3 separate regions of the Homo sapiens genome follow, and regions 2 and 3 are each linked to region 1. The links come from fine-mapping of genetic effects on gene expression. A gene starts in region 1. Each other region holds a variant in brackets. All regions are shown on one strand. Distances are from middle to middle. Region 1 holds the start of ST3GAL5 (ST3 beta-galactoside alpha-2,3-sialyltransferase 5). Region 2 overlaps ST3GAL5 (ST3 beta-galactoside alpha-2,3-sialyltransferase 5). Region 3 has its middle 21 kb from the start of ST3GAL5-AS1.

What was found. PIP is the estimated chance that this variant, and not a neighbour inherited with it, causes the effect.
Region 2: its variant is the best candidate, but not a certain one, in a credible set for the expression of ST3GAL5 in whole blood (INTERVAL, PIP 0.86).
Region 3: its variant is the best candidate, but not a certain one, in a credible set for the expression of ST3GAL5 in blood mononuclear cells (TOPMed, PIP 0.63).

Annotation. Positions count from the first base shown.
Region 1 is chr2:85,885,982-85,891,317 of GRCh38, reverse strand. ST3GAL5 (ST3 beta-galactoside alpha-2,3-sialyltransferase 5) reads left to right here and starts at 2,328. Exons shown (of 7, transcript NM_003896.4): 1 at 2,328-2,494. The coding sequence starts at 2,413. ST3GAL5-AS1 (ST3GAL5 antisense RNA 1) reads right to left here and starts at 2,038. Exons shown (of 3, transcript NR_110569.1): 1 at 1,515-2,038; 2 at 113-142. RefSeq lists silencers at 1,927-2,546, 2,587-2,706 and enhancers at 2,877-2,956, 2,648-3,148, 3,487-3,616, 3,627-3,746.
Region 2 is chr2:85,844,218-85,849,217 of GRCh38, reverse strand. It overlaps ST3GAL5 (ST3 beta-galactoside alpha-2,3-sialyltransferase 5), which reads left to right. Exons shown (of 7, transcript NM_003896.4): 4 at 1,014-1,357; 5 at 2,655-2,841; 6 at 4,664-4,822. Among named protein-coding and RNA genes, the nearest start is that of ST3GAL5, 42 kb to the left of the region's middle. RefSeq lists an enhancer at 1,654-1,713. The variant T/G (reference allele first, on the strand shown) is at 1,953.
Region 3 is chr2:85,907,576-85,912,911 of GRCh38, reverse strand. No RefSeq gene overlaps it. Among named protein-coding and RNA genes, the nearest start is that of ST3GAL5-AS1, 21 kb to the right of the region's middle. The variant C/T (reference allele first, on the strand shown) is at 2,473.

The DNA of each region.
Region 1 (5,336 bases):
CCTGGCATGGTGTTGGGTACCTGTAGTTCCAGCTACTTGGGAGGCTGAGGTAGGAGGATTGCTTGAGCCCAGGAGGTGGAGGTTGCAGTGAGCCAAGATCGTGCCACTGCACTCCAGCTTGGATGACAGAGTGAATCTGTCTCTAAAAAAGAAAAAAAAAAAAACGCTGCTGTCCTGGATTTGTAAGTAGCCTGAGTGACTCTTTGCTAGTCACTATTCAGAAGCTTCTCTGAGATCAGCCACTGACTTGGAGAGATAACAGTAAGGCTTTGAGATCTAGAGGCTGATCTTAGTCTGCTGTTTGGAGATCTCTGCCTTAATCCAGAATAATAGCTGAGGATGTCTCTGTGGCTGATGAAGAAAAGGAAGTTTGCAGGCCTGCTTGTCTTGCTGCCCAAGTGGGTCAACCTAATGTGAGTGGAGTGAATGAGGTAGTAAGGGCTTAACAGATGTCTTGTGATTCTGGGACAGGAGGCAGCTTCAAGTTCCTTTTCTTCCTCACCCCCACCTTACACCCATCCTTGGAAGCTGGGATACTGCTGACTCTCATGGCAGCCATAACGCTATCAGCGCCTGGCTTTGCCGACAAGGGGAATCTGGAAGAGAAGGGGAAGGACAGGGGAGACAAAGAGAGGTAAAGAGTGTTGCATCAAGCACATGTGTCAGAAGTGTTCAAACCAGAGCGCCTCCATTTTGAGTGAGGGCTAGAAAAATGAGGCTGGGACTTGCTAGGCTGCATTTCCTGAAAGCTAGGCATTCCTAGCCTCTAGGTGTTTATGGTTAAGAGAACAAATTAATAATGCTTACTAAACAGACCCAGACTTGAGAGAGTCCAGATATCCCGATATCTGGAGAACAAAGGCATTCCTAATTTTGCTTTAAAAATAATAATATTGATTATTGCAAAATATAGTAATTAGGGAAAATTAATCCTTTATCACAAACCCTTGTAGCAGAAGACATCTGCCCATATATACAAGCATTACAAGCATTGTACCTTAGTTGGATATGTCCCTCCTCTTATTTTCAGGAATGCCCTGCTGGAGTGCAGTGGCGATCTCGGCTCACTGTAGCCTCTGCCTCCCGGGTTCAAGCGATTCTCCTGCCTCAGCCCCGTGAGTAGCTGAGACAACAGGCTTGCGCCACCACGCCCGGCCAATATTTGTATTTCTAGTAGAGACGGGGTTTTGCCATGTTGGCCAGCTGGTCTTGAACTCCTGACATCAGGTGATCTGTCCGTCTCAGCCTCCCAAAGTGCTGGGATTACGCGTGAGCCACTGTGCCCAGCCACCACTTTACTTTCTTAATAAACTTGCTTTTACTTTGCACTGTGGACTTACTCTGAATTGTTTCTTGCGTGAGATCGAAGAACCCTCTCTTGGGGTCTAGATCGGGACCCCTTTCCTGTAACACATGGGCCTTGGGCTGATCTCCAAGATTAAGAGGGCAAGATACTCAGCTGCAAGGGTCAGCTGTCGCTGACCCCAGCAGCTGCTCTGCCTTGGCCAACTTACCGGATTTAAATCGCCCAGTGACAGCTTTTCCTCCAGTATTTTCAAAATGCTCCCAATATCCTCACGTTAGAACAATCCAGAAATAGTCTTATGGTAAAACTCTTTTGGGAAATGTGAAAGTAGAGTCCTCCCACCTTTTCCTTTGCAACGCTTTTGCCCCAACCTCGATCGCCCAGGCAGCACATTTTTTCCGGCACCCCCACCAAGGGAAGAACAGAGACATCTCCAAACCAGCTGCCCTGCGCCAAGCTGTTACAAAATAGAGCCACAAGTCTCCCGGTTTATGCAAACATATTTGGCTCGGTGTCTAGGATCTTCTTTTTCAAACTCAGAAGGAGATCACAGGCACACGGCCGCGGTGCTGTGTACGCCCCTCTGAAAGGAAGTTCTGCAAGTCGACCGACTTCACTGGCTTCACTGAAGTCCGGTCCGAAACCACCGGAAAGTTGCAGGCGCACAGTATACGTTCAGCTGTGTCCAAGAAATAACCTATCAATCACTGCCTTAAGCTTTGTTTCCTTCCTGAATTTTCTTATTTTCACGAATATTTATGCTTTCACAAACTGTATGTCATTTCCTCTCCAGAACCAAGGGGGGCTCGCCCCAGCCTGGCCCCCGCCCCGGGTGCGTCCCTGCAGGGGGCGCCCTGCTCTGGCAATGCCCACCGCACCGCAGGGCTGACTGGCCGCGCGCCCGGGGGCGGGGGCCGCCGCGGAGGCATCGTGCTCTCCGATTGGCCGTCCGCGTCCTCGTGACGTCAGACCCCGCCCACGCGCCCCTCCTCCGCATCTGAGCGGGGGAGCGGCGGCCCCCAGCTGAATGGGCGCGAGAGCGGCGCTGGGGGCGGGTGGGGGCGCGGGGTACCGGGCTGGCGGCCGGCCGGCGCCCCCTCATTAGTATGCGGACGAAGGCGGCGGGCTGCGCGGAGCGGCGTCCCCTGCAGCCGCGGACCGAGGCAGCGGCGGCACCTGCCGGCCGAGGTACGTGGCGCAGCCCCCTCCTCGGCGTCGCGGGGGCCCGCGGGCTGGGGGCTGCGGCGGCGACTTGTCTCTTCCCGGGCCGGCTGGGCGCGGCGTTTCCGCCTCGAACCCCGCGGGCAGCGCCCAGGGCACGACACCCTCAGGCGAGCCCGGCTGGGGCGCGGGCGGAGGGTCGTGGTCCCGGGCCGTGTGGACCGGGCGGGGGGTCCCACGCAGGTGTGTACGCGGTAGAGGGTGGGGCGGACCGCCGGGTGTCGGGTCCCGCCGCAGTGGCCCTTTCCCCGCCGCTTTCCGCTGCAGCTCGGGATTTAATTCATTGCTGGAAGCTTCGGAGTTAGCAGAGCCGAGTTAACTCGTTTTCCTGGGATGGGCTTAGGGAACCCCCTGCAAGGTTACTAGCAGCTCCTGAAACCTCTCTCTGCATCCATCGGGGAGGCGTGATGTGGGGCCGCTGGTAGAAATTTGCCGGTGACCTTCCCTGCACCCTCTCTGCAGCCAGCCTTGCGGAGAAGACAGGTTTTGGCGACCTTTTGATTTCTTCTGAATTGTAAGCCGTGGCTTGACGCGGGTGTGCATTCATTGTACGCCTTGCGTGTGTAAGTAACGCAGGGTTTTCCGAGAGCATCCCCGAGGAGCCCTGCCCTTGCCTCACACCCGCTTGGTGACCTTGGCAGACACTGATCCCCCTGTGGGGCTCGGGCTCATGGTCTCTCCTGAGAAGCTTACCCTGCCGATGGCCGAGGTCCCTTCCAGGCCCCGGGTTTTTCTAATCATAAAAAAATACGTTTACGAGGGTAGAGGATCCTGCAGAATCTCTAGCTGACTCGGAAGACGAATTTTATATCCTCATGTCTTAAGTCATGCATGCGGCTTTTGCTTAATTAGGCATCGTTCATTTGAAGGGGAAAATGGTTTTATGTGCTGCGCTTCATCTGGCACCAGTGGTTGCCTGCTCCTCGTGGCAGGGCCGTGCTGGGTGTCACAGAGAGGAAGGAGACTCATCTCCTGCCCTCTGGTGTTTAGCTGCCCTCCCCCGGGCTTATGGCTGCTAATCCTTTTCCACGGAAGGATACAGCTGCTGAAACTGTGGAAGAGGAATCCATTTCTGCTGCATGAAGGGGCACAGACTTGAATACAGTCAGGACAGGTTGTGGTTTCACTTGTGTAATCCTGAGAGCTTGACAGCTTCGAGGAGTGTCTAACATTGCTAGTAACAGAGCCTAGAAGCACCTGAATTCCAGCTGTCACTTGGAGAAGGAGAGATTCATACGAACTGCGAGAGCATATAACCAGCATGTCTTGAGTCTTTTACCCATGTGCCTGTTATATGGATGCTGCTGTTTTTGTAAGATGAAATGACCCTTGGATATTCTGGGTTATGATCAGCATTTCTTCGTCTAGGCGAGAAAAGAAACAGGTGAGATAGGAAGGCATGAAGGGGCTCATGGAAGAGAGAGGGCTGACAGGCAGAAATTTTGAGAGCTCACATTTACGACTATTTGGACAGTTCTTATAATTTTGGCATAAATTGTAAATTGTTGCATGTTATCAAAATAGATTGGTGATGAACGTTAAGGATATATCCGTGGCAGAATAAGAACACACTCTTTGTTCTTTGGTTTGCTCCTCTAGTTCTTCCCTGCTTGCCTTGTGGGACTATTTGCAGCAATGAGGGGAATTTATCTAGCAGGTTGGCCTCGGGAGGCAATGAATGAAAAGAGGTTGGTGAGTCCTCTGTGGGAGTCCATTCCAGGTCCTGGAGGGCTGAGGTGGGTGTCTTGGAGCCAGCAGTTTCTGGGAGAAGGGATAAAGCTCACCTTCCACACCCTCCTGGCTCCTGAGGAGCGATTTAATCCGCACTGCCTGTGGACACGATGGAGGACTGAGATCACTCCCGAAGGGCATGCTCCGTGGTTTTAGTCTGCTGGGAAGCTCTGGCAGAAGTAAAACAACTGGGAATATACACATGTTAATGATGCTCCAAGCTGCCTAACTGCTGAGGAAGGAAAAGCAAGGGCTGGATCAGTGTGGGTGGCATAAGTTAGCAAAGGCATCCAAAGTGGGGTGAATCACAGGCCTGGTGTGGGAGGAAACCATAAATATGACGGTGACACGCAGGCTCGCCCGGGAGACAGCCAGCTTAAGCACACGTGCAGAGGAGAAGCAAGTGAAATGCGTAAGGGAGCAGGAGAAAAATCAGCTTTGAGGCTTCAAGGACACTACCAGGCTTGTCTTACCTGGACACCAGACAGACAAAACTTTTTTTTCCTCTTTTTTTTTTAAGTATAGCATAGATACTAGGAAAGTAGACATACCATAAGTGTCCTGCTCAATGAATTTTCCAGACTGAACATGCCCATGCACTCAGCACTTAGATCAACAAACAGAACTGGCCGGGACCCTGGGAGCTCCCCTTGTGTTGTACTCCAGTCGCGGCCTCCCCCAGGATCAGCCTTGAACTCCTGGAGTCAAGCAATCCTCCTGCCTTAGCCTCCTCAGTAGCTGAGACTACGGGCACACACCACCAGACCCAGCTAATTTGTTTTATTTTATTTTGTAGAGACGGCTCCCACTGTGTTGTCCAGGCTGGTCTCTGGCAACTCCTAGCCTCAAACTATTCTCCCACATTGCCCTCCCAAAGCGCTGAGATTACAGGCGTGAGCAATTGCGCCTGGCTGGCTAGTGTATGCCTTCTTTCCTTAAGCATTGAGTTTCTGAGAATCACTCATGATGCTGCCCATGGTTGAAGCATGTTCACTCTCATTGGTGATAGGGGCCATTGGGTGAATATACCACATAGTCACGCATTGTTAGTGGACATTTGGGCAGTTTGCAGCATTTG
Region 2 (5,000 bases), 42 kb after region 1:
TTTGTATAGGTGGGGTCTCACCATGTTGCCCAGGCTAGCCTCGAACTCCTGGGCTCAAGCAACCCTCTCACCTTGGCCTCCCAAAGTGCTGAGATTATAGGTGTGACCCGCCATGCCCGCCTTTCCTCTGAGTTTTGTTGCATTCACGCAGCTCCTGGCTGAGGCAAAACATTAAAATGCATATGGAAATGCAGGCTGGGAAAATGCTTTGAAACCAATGCAATTTCTGTGTTAAGGGGACATTCCCTGATTCTTTCAGGTAATTTGCATTCTAGACTGTGACATTCTGTATCTCAACTGATAAATAAGCCTGTTTGTCATCCTGCTAGATGAGAACCTGATATATGAAACCTTTTTTTTAATCGTGGTTAAAAAAAACATAAAATTTACCATCATAATTATTTTTAAATGTACCATTTGGCAGCATTAAGTATATTTAAACTCTTGTGAAACAAATTTCTAGAATGTTTTCATCTTGCAAAACCGAAACGCTGTACCTATTAAACAACTCCCCTTTTCTCCCTCTCTTCAACCCTGGTAACCATGTTTTTATGAATTTGACTACTTTAGATACCTCATATAAGTCAGGTCATACAGTATTTGTCTCTTTGTGACTGGCTTCACTTAGCATAATGTCCTCAAAGTTTAACTATGTTGTAGCATGTATCAGAATTTTATGAAACATGAAGTCTTAGACACCCCGAAGTACATTTTCACCCCAAATGTATTTGAACAGTGTTAGGCTGGGGGTGGGAGGCGGGAGTCCTTCTTGCTTTGCCTGTGCAATGAAATGAATACCCTGCTGTGTTTATCTCCTTGTCATGTGATTCTCCCAGGTTGTTTCTTCAAGTTTCTGAGCCAAACTTAACTCTAAAAAGCAAATATTCTGTGTTAAAAGACAGTAATCAACACGGGAGCTACATCAGACATCATAGGACAAATTGTCATCTAGAAGAGTATATTTTTAATGCAGGAGAGTTTTTAAAACCCAGATTGGTGTGATTTCATTCCAGAGAGCTCAGAAATATGCTCAGCAAGTCTTGCAGAAGGAATGTCGTCCCAAGTTTGCCAAGACATCAATGGCGCTGTTATTTGAGCACAGGTATAGCGTGGACTTACTCCCTTTTGTGCAGAAGGCCCCCAAAGACAGTGAAGCTGAGTCCAAGTACGATCCTCCTTTTGGGTTCCGGAAGTTCTCCAGTAAAGTCCAGACCCTCTTGGAACTCTTGCCAGAGCACGACCTCCCTGAACACTTGAAAGCCAAGACCTGTCGGCGCTGTGTGGTTATTGGAAGCGGAGGAATACTGCACGGATTAGAACTGGGCCACACCCTGAACCAGTTCGATGTTGTGATAAGGTACATTGGTTTTTTTTGTTTGTTTGTTTACTTATTTTTATTGTTTTTATTTTATTTTATTTTTTGAGGCAGGGTCTCACTCCTGTTGTCCAGGCTGGAGTGCAGTGGTGTGATCTCAGCTCACTGCAGCCTCAACTTCCCAGGCTCAGGAGATCCTCCCACCACAGCCTCCCCAGTAGCTGGGACCCCAGGCACACACCACGCGTGGCTAATTTTTTATATTTTTAGTAGAGATGGGGTTTCTCCGAATTGCCCAGACTGGGGTACATCGCTTTTAAAACCAACCTTTCTCCTCTAGAACTCAGTGCACTGCTCTTGGTCAGTGTGGCTCCAGGAACAGTGAGGGACACAGGAAGCTCTTCACAGTCCCTGCCCACAAGGGACTTAACGTTTGAGAAGTTGAAACAAAAACACAAAATGGTTGGATGCTCCAAACTGTCATACTGACCCTAAGTTGGAGGAGCATGCTGCTGGCTACAGTAAGTGGCAGAACCTTGTCAGAGGAAGTGAGATTTGGAAGGTGGGTAGATTCAAGTAAAACAGCAAAGGACCACAACTCCCAGACAGGGGCAAGAAGAGGACACAGCAAGAGACT[T/G]GAGTCAATGAGGGGCCTGGCTTCTGGAGAAGGGGCTTGGGGCCAGTGAGTCCTGGAAGGCAGTGCTGGCTGGGACATGGAAGGCACACAGAGAAGTTCAGACTCACCATGATAGCCAATAGGCAGTCATCCTAGATTCTTTTTTGGTTTCACTGTTTAAAAATTGTTTTCTGGCCAGGCGCAGTGGCTCATGCCTATAATCCCAGCACTTTGGGAGGCCAAGGCAGGAGGATCGCTTGAGCTCAGGAGTTCAAGACCAGCCTGGGCAACATAGAGACAGCTTGTCTCTACAGAAAATCAAAAAGTCAGCCAGGCATGGTGGACTAGATTTTCCCTTCTGATTCCTTTTTTGAAATTCTGGCAAGAACTAACATCTGAGCACAATGGAAAATTTCTGAGGATATTTTACTGGCACCCAGAGAAAGTCCCAAATGTAATATGCTTAGATTGAGTAAAAATATTAGGGCTAGATGAAATTGCTTGACATTCAGGGATTAGATACAAGTGTTCGCTCAAGTACTAAAGGCTGCATTCCTCGAAATCCTAGAAAGACAGAGCTGGGAGGGGAGATGAGGCTGCAAACCATGCACTCATTCTTAGTCATAAGAAGACGTGGAGGACATGACATGGATACTGCCTGGTGTACAGAGATGGTTGATGGCCTGCTTTGTCAGTGTGTCTTTGTCCTTTTTATTTAAATAGGTTAAACAGTGCACCAGTTGAGGGATATTCAGAACATGTTGGAAATAAAACTACTATAAGGATGACTTATCCAGAGGGCGCACCACTGTCTGACCTTGAATATTATTCCAATGACTTATTTGTTGCTGTTTTATTTAAGAGTGTTGATTTCAACTGGCTTCAAGCAATGGTAAAAAAGGAAACCCTGGTAAGCACTAATACTTCTATTAAATCTGCCTTAGTAAAAAGTGAAGGAGTCTTACTTAGTTGTAATTATAGCCTTTTATTTTTAAACACGCAGAGCGGAATGCATACTTATGTGTTGTCTTTCAAATGATGATCACTCTCTTTGTAGAAACCCCTCAGCAATTCTTTTTTTTGGGGATGGAGTCTCATTCTGTTGTCCAGGCTAGAGGGCTGGAGTGCAGTGGTGCAGTCTTGGCTCTCTGCAGCCTCCGCATCCCAGGTTCAAGCAATTCTCCTGCCTCAGCCTCCCGAGTAGCTAGGATTACAGGCGCCTGCCACCACGCCCAGTTAATTTTTGTATTTTTAATAGAGATGGGGTTTCACCATGTTGGCCAGGCTGGTCTCAAACTCCTGACCTCAGGAGATCCACCCGCCTCAGCCTCCAAAAGTGCTGGGATTACAAACATGAGCCACTGCACCTGGCCCTCTTCCAGTGGTTCTTGCACATGGGCAGGTTGGAGAATTCCTGGTAGAGACAGTGGTGAGGGTGTTTATAATTTAAACTGAACAAATACTAGGAGCTAGTGGGAGATTTGTTGGGTGCGGTCTCAGCACCGGCACTTCCTCAGTGCTTTTGATTTCATGGGTGAAATTTCACACTCCTGAGAGACAAATGAGACCCTGCCCCCCAGTTGAAATCGGAAAGTACCATACAGTGGGAGTATTTTTCCTTTTGGTGGCGGGAATGGAGTGAGATGGTTATAAAGAGGCCCTGCTGCAGTTGTGTCAATCCAGGAGTGGGTGCTTTCCTCCTATGTCTGTGTACAGCTGTACACTCTGCATGGATGGGCCAGACCTAATTAAGAGTCGCATGAAAATGGTGATCATTGCTTAATGGGAATATCCAGATTGTGACCAAAATTGCTGTTACTGAGGTTGTTCACCCACCTTGTTCTCCAGACATGAACTTGCATAGCTTTTGGCTAGTTCCAGAAATTAGACTTACTTAGATGGATATAAGCCTTTTTGAGGGTATTCAAAAGCATATAAAAATCAAGGAATACTCTAAAGAGCTCCAAAAATGCTTTGGTCAGTGGTTCCCTTGTTGGAATAAATTCATGGCATTCCAGAAGGGCAGCTATGGAGGAGATGGCCCTCACTTGGTCATATTCCTTTTGTCTTTATTGGTCACATTACTTTATAGTCTCACCCATTATATTCAAATACATTTCAGAGGTCAGCTGTCGAGGAGTGTATGCACATGTATAGACATATGCACAAACTAGCTGTCTGTGAAACTAATGGGACGTATTCAACTTTTCACGTAAACTCCATGTGATGACAAATTTGTATTTCCAAAGCTGATTCTATATCAGTCATCATGGTCTTCTGGATTTTCTATTGGGCAGAAGTTCTAGTTGGAAGATGAAGCATATATGAAACGACTTCATGGGACTAGGAAATAGAGTAAGTGAGAGAGGATGCGAGGTGAGGGCAGTTTCAGCACTTAATAGCCTTAAATTGGACCTATTCACTTGGGCTTCCCTAGACAAAATGATGGTGTTAGCACCATTGAGGAATGTCTACCTCAAACAAATACAAGCTGGTTCTGCAATTCATCTCTTTGTCCAGTGCCGCCTGTGTGAAGTGGCTATTTCAGAGTTACTTTTTTGAGTTGGAGTGCCGGATTTGCGTAGCTTTTGCAATCTATAGGAGTAGATTGCTTCAGAAGGCAGTGCACAGGGCCACATGGGGTCACACCCACAGCCTTGGTCTGATGAGTGGGAATGCTTTCTCCCCTCCCCTAGAAGGATGACTAACAACTGCTTGCTTGCTTTCCTTAGCCATTCTGGGTACGACTCTTCTTTTGGAAGCAGGTGGCAGAAAAAATCCCACTGCAGCCAAAACATTTCAGGATTTTGAATCCAGTTATCATCAAAGAGACTGCCTTTGACATCCTTCAGTACTCAGAGCCTCAGTCAAGGTTCTGGGGCCGAGATAAGGTATTTTTGTTGCTACTCAAAGTTAATCATTCCCTGTTTGAGGGGCGATGTGTACAAATTTCACTTTGGCTCAACTGTATACCCAGAAGCATCTCCAGTGGAGAAACCCAGCCTGTGATTAGATGCTCCATGTGTGTTTACCACTCTGCACTTGGCTGCAGGGCTCCTCATTGTTTAA
Region 3 (5,336 bases), 22 kb before region 1:
CCAAGTAGCTGGGATTACAGGCATGCACCACCATGCCCGGCTAATTTTTGTATTTTTAGTAGAGACAGGGTTTCACCATGTTGGCCAGGCTGGTCTCAAACTCCTGACCTCAGGTGATCCGCCCGCCTCAGCCTCCCAAAGTGCTGGGATTACAGGCATGAACCACCGTGCCCAGCCAGTATCTAGAGTTTTTATTGGGGTTTCATTACATAGGCATGATTGAGTGACTCGGCCACATGATCAAACTTGATCTCCAGCTTCCTACCCCTCTAGGCTCAAATTCCAACCCTCTAATCACATATGTAGTTGGTCTTTCCAGCCTGGCCAGCCTCCATGGGCCCGCCATTAGTCACCTTGTTAGCATAAACTCAGGAGTAATCCCAGGGGCTCACCACGGATAACAAATATTCTTCTACCACTCAGAAAATTCCAAGGGTTTAGAAACTCTGTCCCATGAATCCAAAAACAAAGACCAGACAAACTATGACACAACAATATCTGTAGCACGGCTGTCACAAGGCAGAAACACTTCAGGATCTGACTAAAGGCTGGCACTGAGAAGGCGGGGGTTTTCCTTGGTCCCAGCCTGCTATGTTCTTAGCGACTGATTGGAGTGTTGTGTAGAGGCTTCTGTGGCTACATCCAGGACCAGCTGGAGGGAGTAATATGGTTAACCAGTCATGACAGCCCTTGCTAAGAAGAGGATAAGAAGGGGAAAGCAGGAGTATGCATGTTGGATACTTGCTAATCCTGGGCTAAGGGATTTTTTTCTTTTTTCTCTTTTTTTAAAGAGAACAACCGCAGAGTAATGAAAATGATAATGCTGTTTGCAAACAAAAGTTTGCTCTCATGAAAAGAATAAAAACCTGGGACTCCAATTCACTATGCCTAAAGGAAAAAATTAAGCTGAAAGCTGACTCATTCAAGAAACTGCCTTTCCTTTTGTTCCTAAGCAGATAGCTACAGAAAAAAAAAGAGCATGGTGATGTATGCCCAGTTACTTGGGAGGCTGAGGTGTGAGGATCACTTCAGCCCACTGCAGTCCACTCTGGGCAACAGAGCAAGACCCTGTCTCAAAAAAAAGGCCGGGCACGGTGGCTCACGCCTGTAATCCCAGCACTTTGGGAGGCCGAGGTGGGTGGATCACGAGGTCAGGAGATCGAGACCATCCTGGCTAACACGGTGAAAACCCATTTCTACTAAAAATACAAAAAATTAGCTGGGCGTGGTGGTCGGCGCCTGTGGTCCCAGCTACTTGGGAGGCTGAGGCAGGAGAATGGTGTGAACCCAGGAGGTGAAGCTTGCAGTGAGCCGAGATGGTGCCACTGCACTCCAGCCTGGGCGACAGAGCGGGACTCTGTCTCAAAAAAAAGAAACAAAAAATCACATTTACCCCAAATGATTGTCTTAATGAATGTGGGCCTCTTCCAGGGACTATCATGTCAACCCACCCATGTAGAGAGCTGATATTCAGCTCATACGTACTGGTTATCAGACCAATTGTTAAATGATTTGAAACACTTTCAGATCGTTGGTAAATCATTGCTGCTCCCCTCTCCCAGAGTGCCCGCCTATCATTCTGGCTTTCCTGGCCCCTCCCCTGGGACCACGATGGCTATATATAGTCATTTGCAGAGTGCAGTGCAAAATGAAAATGCAGAGCTCTTGTTCAAAAATGATTAGGCTGGGCATGGTGGCATATGCCTATAGTCTCAGCTATTCCAAACACTGAGGCAGGAGGATTGCTTGAGCCCAAGAGTTCGAGGCTGTAGTGCACTATGATCACACAGAGCCACCGCACTTCAGCCTGGGCAACATAGTGAGACTACATTTAAAAATATATATATTAATGCCCATAAAGCCAGCCCTGCCCACGTCCCTCTCCAGACCTCTTCACAATCTAATCGAAGGCTAGCTTCATGGCCAACATCCTTCTGATTAATAGTAGTTGGCAGAACACTTCAGCTGTTCACCTCCATTACCCCTGCAAATGCAGGAGGAGCATGTAATGTGACCAAGAAATCAATGTTTTCAGACACTGACCTTTGGGGGTTGTTACTGCAGCATAACTCAGTGCATCCTACTAACAGTCACCAACGCCCTTTAAGTTCCTAAATATTTGATTATCATTTTGCCCACATGGTTTTGTCTTTGCATCACAAACAGGACAACTGAGAGTTGTTTTTTGGCAGGAACATGGTTTGACTGTTACTGGAAACTCTTTCTCAGGATTACACAAGGCAAAACAGGATTCCCAAACCCTATTTTTTTTTTTTTTTTTTTTTTTTTTGAGACAGAGTCTCTCTCGGTCGCCCAGGCTGGAGTGCAGTGGATTGATCTCCGCTCACTGCAACCTCCACCTCCTGGGTTCAAGAGATTCTCCTGCCTCAGCCTCCTGAGTAGCTGGGACTACAGGCGCATGCCACCACACCCGGCTAATTTTTTGTATTTTTAGTAGAGACTGGGCTTCAC[C/T]GTGTTAGCCAGGATGGTCTCGATCTCCTGACCTCGTGATCTATCTGCCTCAGCCTCCCAAAATGCTGGGATTACAGGCGTGAGCAACCACGTCTGGCCTCCAAACCCTATTTTCAACCAGTGTCCTTTGCCAATACAATGCAGCAGATGCTTTCTACCAATATTCAGATAAAATAGTAAAATGTGTATTTATAAATGTTTTAATATGTCACAAGATTAAAAGACTTATGTCTTCATTGGATGCTTTTCTTTTTGTTTTATTTTATTTTTATTTATTTATTTATTTATTTTGAGATGGAATCTCGCTCTTATTGCCCAGGCTGGAGTACAGTGGCACAATCTCGGCTCACTGCAACCTCCACCTCCCAGGTTCAAGCAATTCTCCTGCCTCAGCCTCCCGAGTAGCTGGGATTAGAGACATGCACAGCTAATTTTTGTATTTTTAGTAGAGACAGGGTTTCACCATGTTGGCCAGTTTGGTCTCAAACTCCTGACCTCATGATCCACCCGCCTTGGCCTCCCAAAGTGCTGGGATTACAGACGTGAGCCACCGAGCCCGGCCGTTATTGTATTTTTATTATTTGAGATAGTCTCACTCTCTCACCCAGGCTGGAGTACAGTGGCATGATCTTGACCCACTGCAGCCTCTACCTCCCAGGCTTAAGCAATCCTCCCACCTCAGCCTCCAGAATAGCTGGGGCTACAGGCGTGCACCATCGTGCCCAGCTAATTTTGTTTATTTTTTATAGAGATGGGGTCTCACTGTGTTACCCAGGCTGGTCTCAAACTCCTGGGCTCTGGCGATCCTTGTGCCTGGGCCTGCCAAGGTGCTAGGATTACAAGTGCGAGCCACCGCCTGGCCTTGGATGCTTTTCTTAAGTGAGTGCCTACAACTCTCACTTCTGATCTGATGTGGCTGCCCGAGGAGGAGGAAGGGGAAGAAAGCAGTAGTTTTAGCATTTCTTGATTTGTGCAGCTGATCTCCTTCCTAGAGGAAAATTGGGTGAGCAGAGAAAAGAACAAAAGGCTGAGGAGGGTTGGCGTCCAAGGGGAGCTCCCAGCCCCTCTCCACCCCTCCCTCTCCTACTCTATCCCACAGAGGAAGGGAATGGAGTTGGGGTCTGAATCGTCAGTGTTGATTAAGGAGCAGGGAATGTAGGATTAAAAAAATAATGTAGTGAGGAGTTCCAGGCAAGGGAGGGTGGGGCAGGGGATTGTTAGGGCAGTGAAACTACTCTGTATGATACTACAGTGGTGGATCCATGTCATCATACATGTGTCAGAACCTATGGAATGTGCAATGCTAACAGTGAATGCTAATGTAAACCATGGACTTCAATTAACAATATCATTATATCAAGATTGGCTCATCAGTTGTAACTAATGTACTATACTATGTTAATAACGGGCAACTTGGTGGTGGTGAGGGAGTATGTGGGAGCTCTGTGTATTTTCTGCTCAATTTTTCTACAAACCTAACACTGATCCCAAAACCGAAGTCTATTAGTTTAAAAATAATAAAATAGACATATATTGGGTGTCTAGCTATAGATTTCAGTTTTATTATAACTGAAACAACATTCTTGCTTCTCACTGCCTGTTATGACTCTTTTTCCACCAGGCCTCTCCTAAGCAACAGGATGGAAAGATAAAGGTAATATTGACTGTGAGCTAAGAAGAAAGACCAAAAGAGGCCACTTGGCCTGCTGTGACTTTGGACTCAAGGCCACTGTGTACAGTTGCCCAGGTGGTGCACTGCACAAGGACACCACATCAAAGAGGATACATTCTCCTTATAGTCATTAGAGCTTTGTATATTGATTATGCAAATTCCAATAAGCGCTTTTTTCTAATTTGCTCAAAGGCTAGTGGTGACCCTGTCTAGGCCCTAAGCCTTCTGAAGGGTGGGAGACCTCCAAGGGGCCCAGCCTTGCTTACCTAGAGGCAGTTTTGAGTTTGAGGGTGAAACCCCTGCACATTTTCCACTTTCCAGAACCTTGATGTGTGGCAGGTTATGACAAGACCTGTGCATGGGAAGCCCAGAAAGGTACATAAATGGAAAACTGTGAAACCTTGTCACCCAGGTGCAGAAAAGAAGAGATTGGCAAGAACTTGGGCTGGCTCAGACACAAGTTCAGGCATCAGAACCCACACATGGTTCTGGTTTCTAGAAGAACAGGCATGGTTTCTAGAAGGGCAGATTAATGTCGTGTATGAGCGTGTCAGTGGGTTCAGGATGCTGATGCCTGGGGGTAGAAACGGTGGAGGGCCTGCAGCTCTTCTCCTCCATCCAAACTGCCAAGACTGCTGAACTTTGGGCGTGCCCACATGAGACACAAGGGTGAGCTGCATCTGCCCTTCCGCCCCCATCTTTACACTGCTGATTCACTGCTTTGAGAACAAGCCCACATAAGACCAAGTATGCCCTGAACCTACGGGGGCCTGTCTTCCCATCTGCACATGGCTCTGGGTGTGGCCTTGCATGGGGGAGGCCTGGGGATTTGGCTGTCGTGGGACGTGCAGGTGGACAACTCTCTATGTAAACCTCCGTGAGTCCACTACCATGGCTTACAGTGATGTTTTATGTTAAAGGATTTTATGGGGAGATAACAACAATAACATTTTGGAAACAGGAAAGCAAACAAATGAGGAATATTTGACTGAAAGCCAAGTCTCGAGCTTGAATTGCGGAAGGCCAGAACCACTGTTTGACACCACAGCCTCCTCAAACCACAGACTTGGGGCTGGGTGCCGTGGCTCAAACCTGTAATCCCAGCACTTTGGGAGGCTGAGACGGGTGGATCACCTGAGGTCAGGAGTTCGAGACCAGCCTGGCCAACATGGTGAAACCCCACCTGTACTAA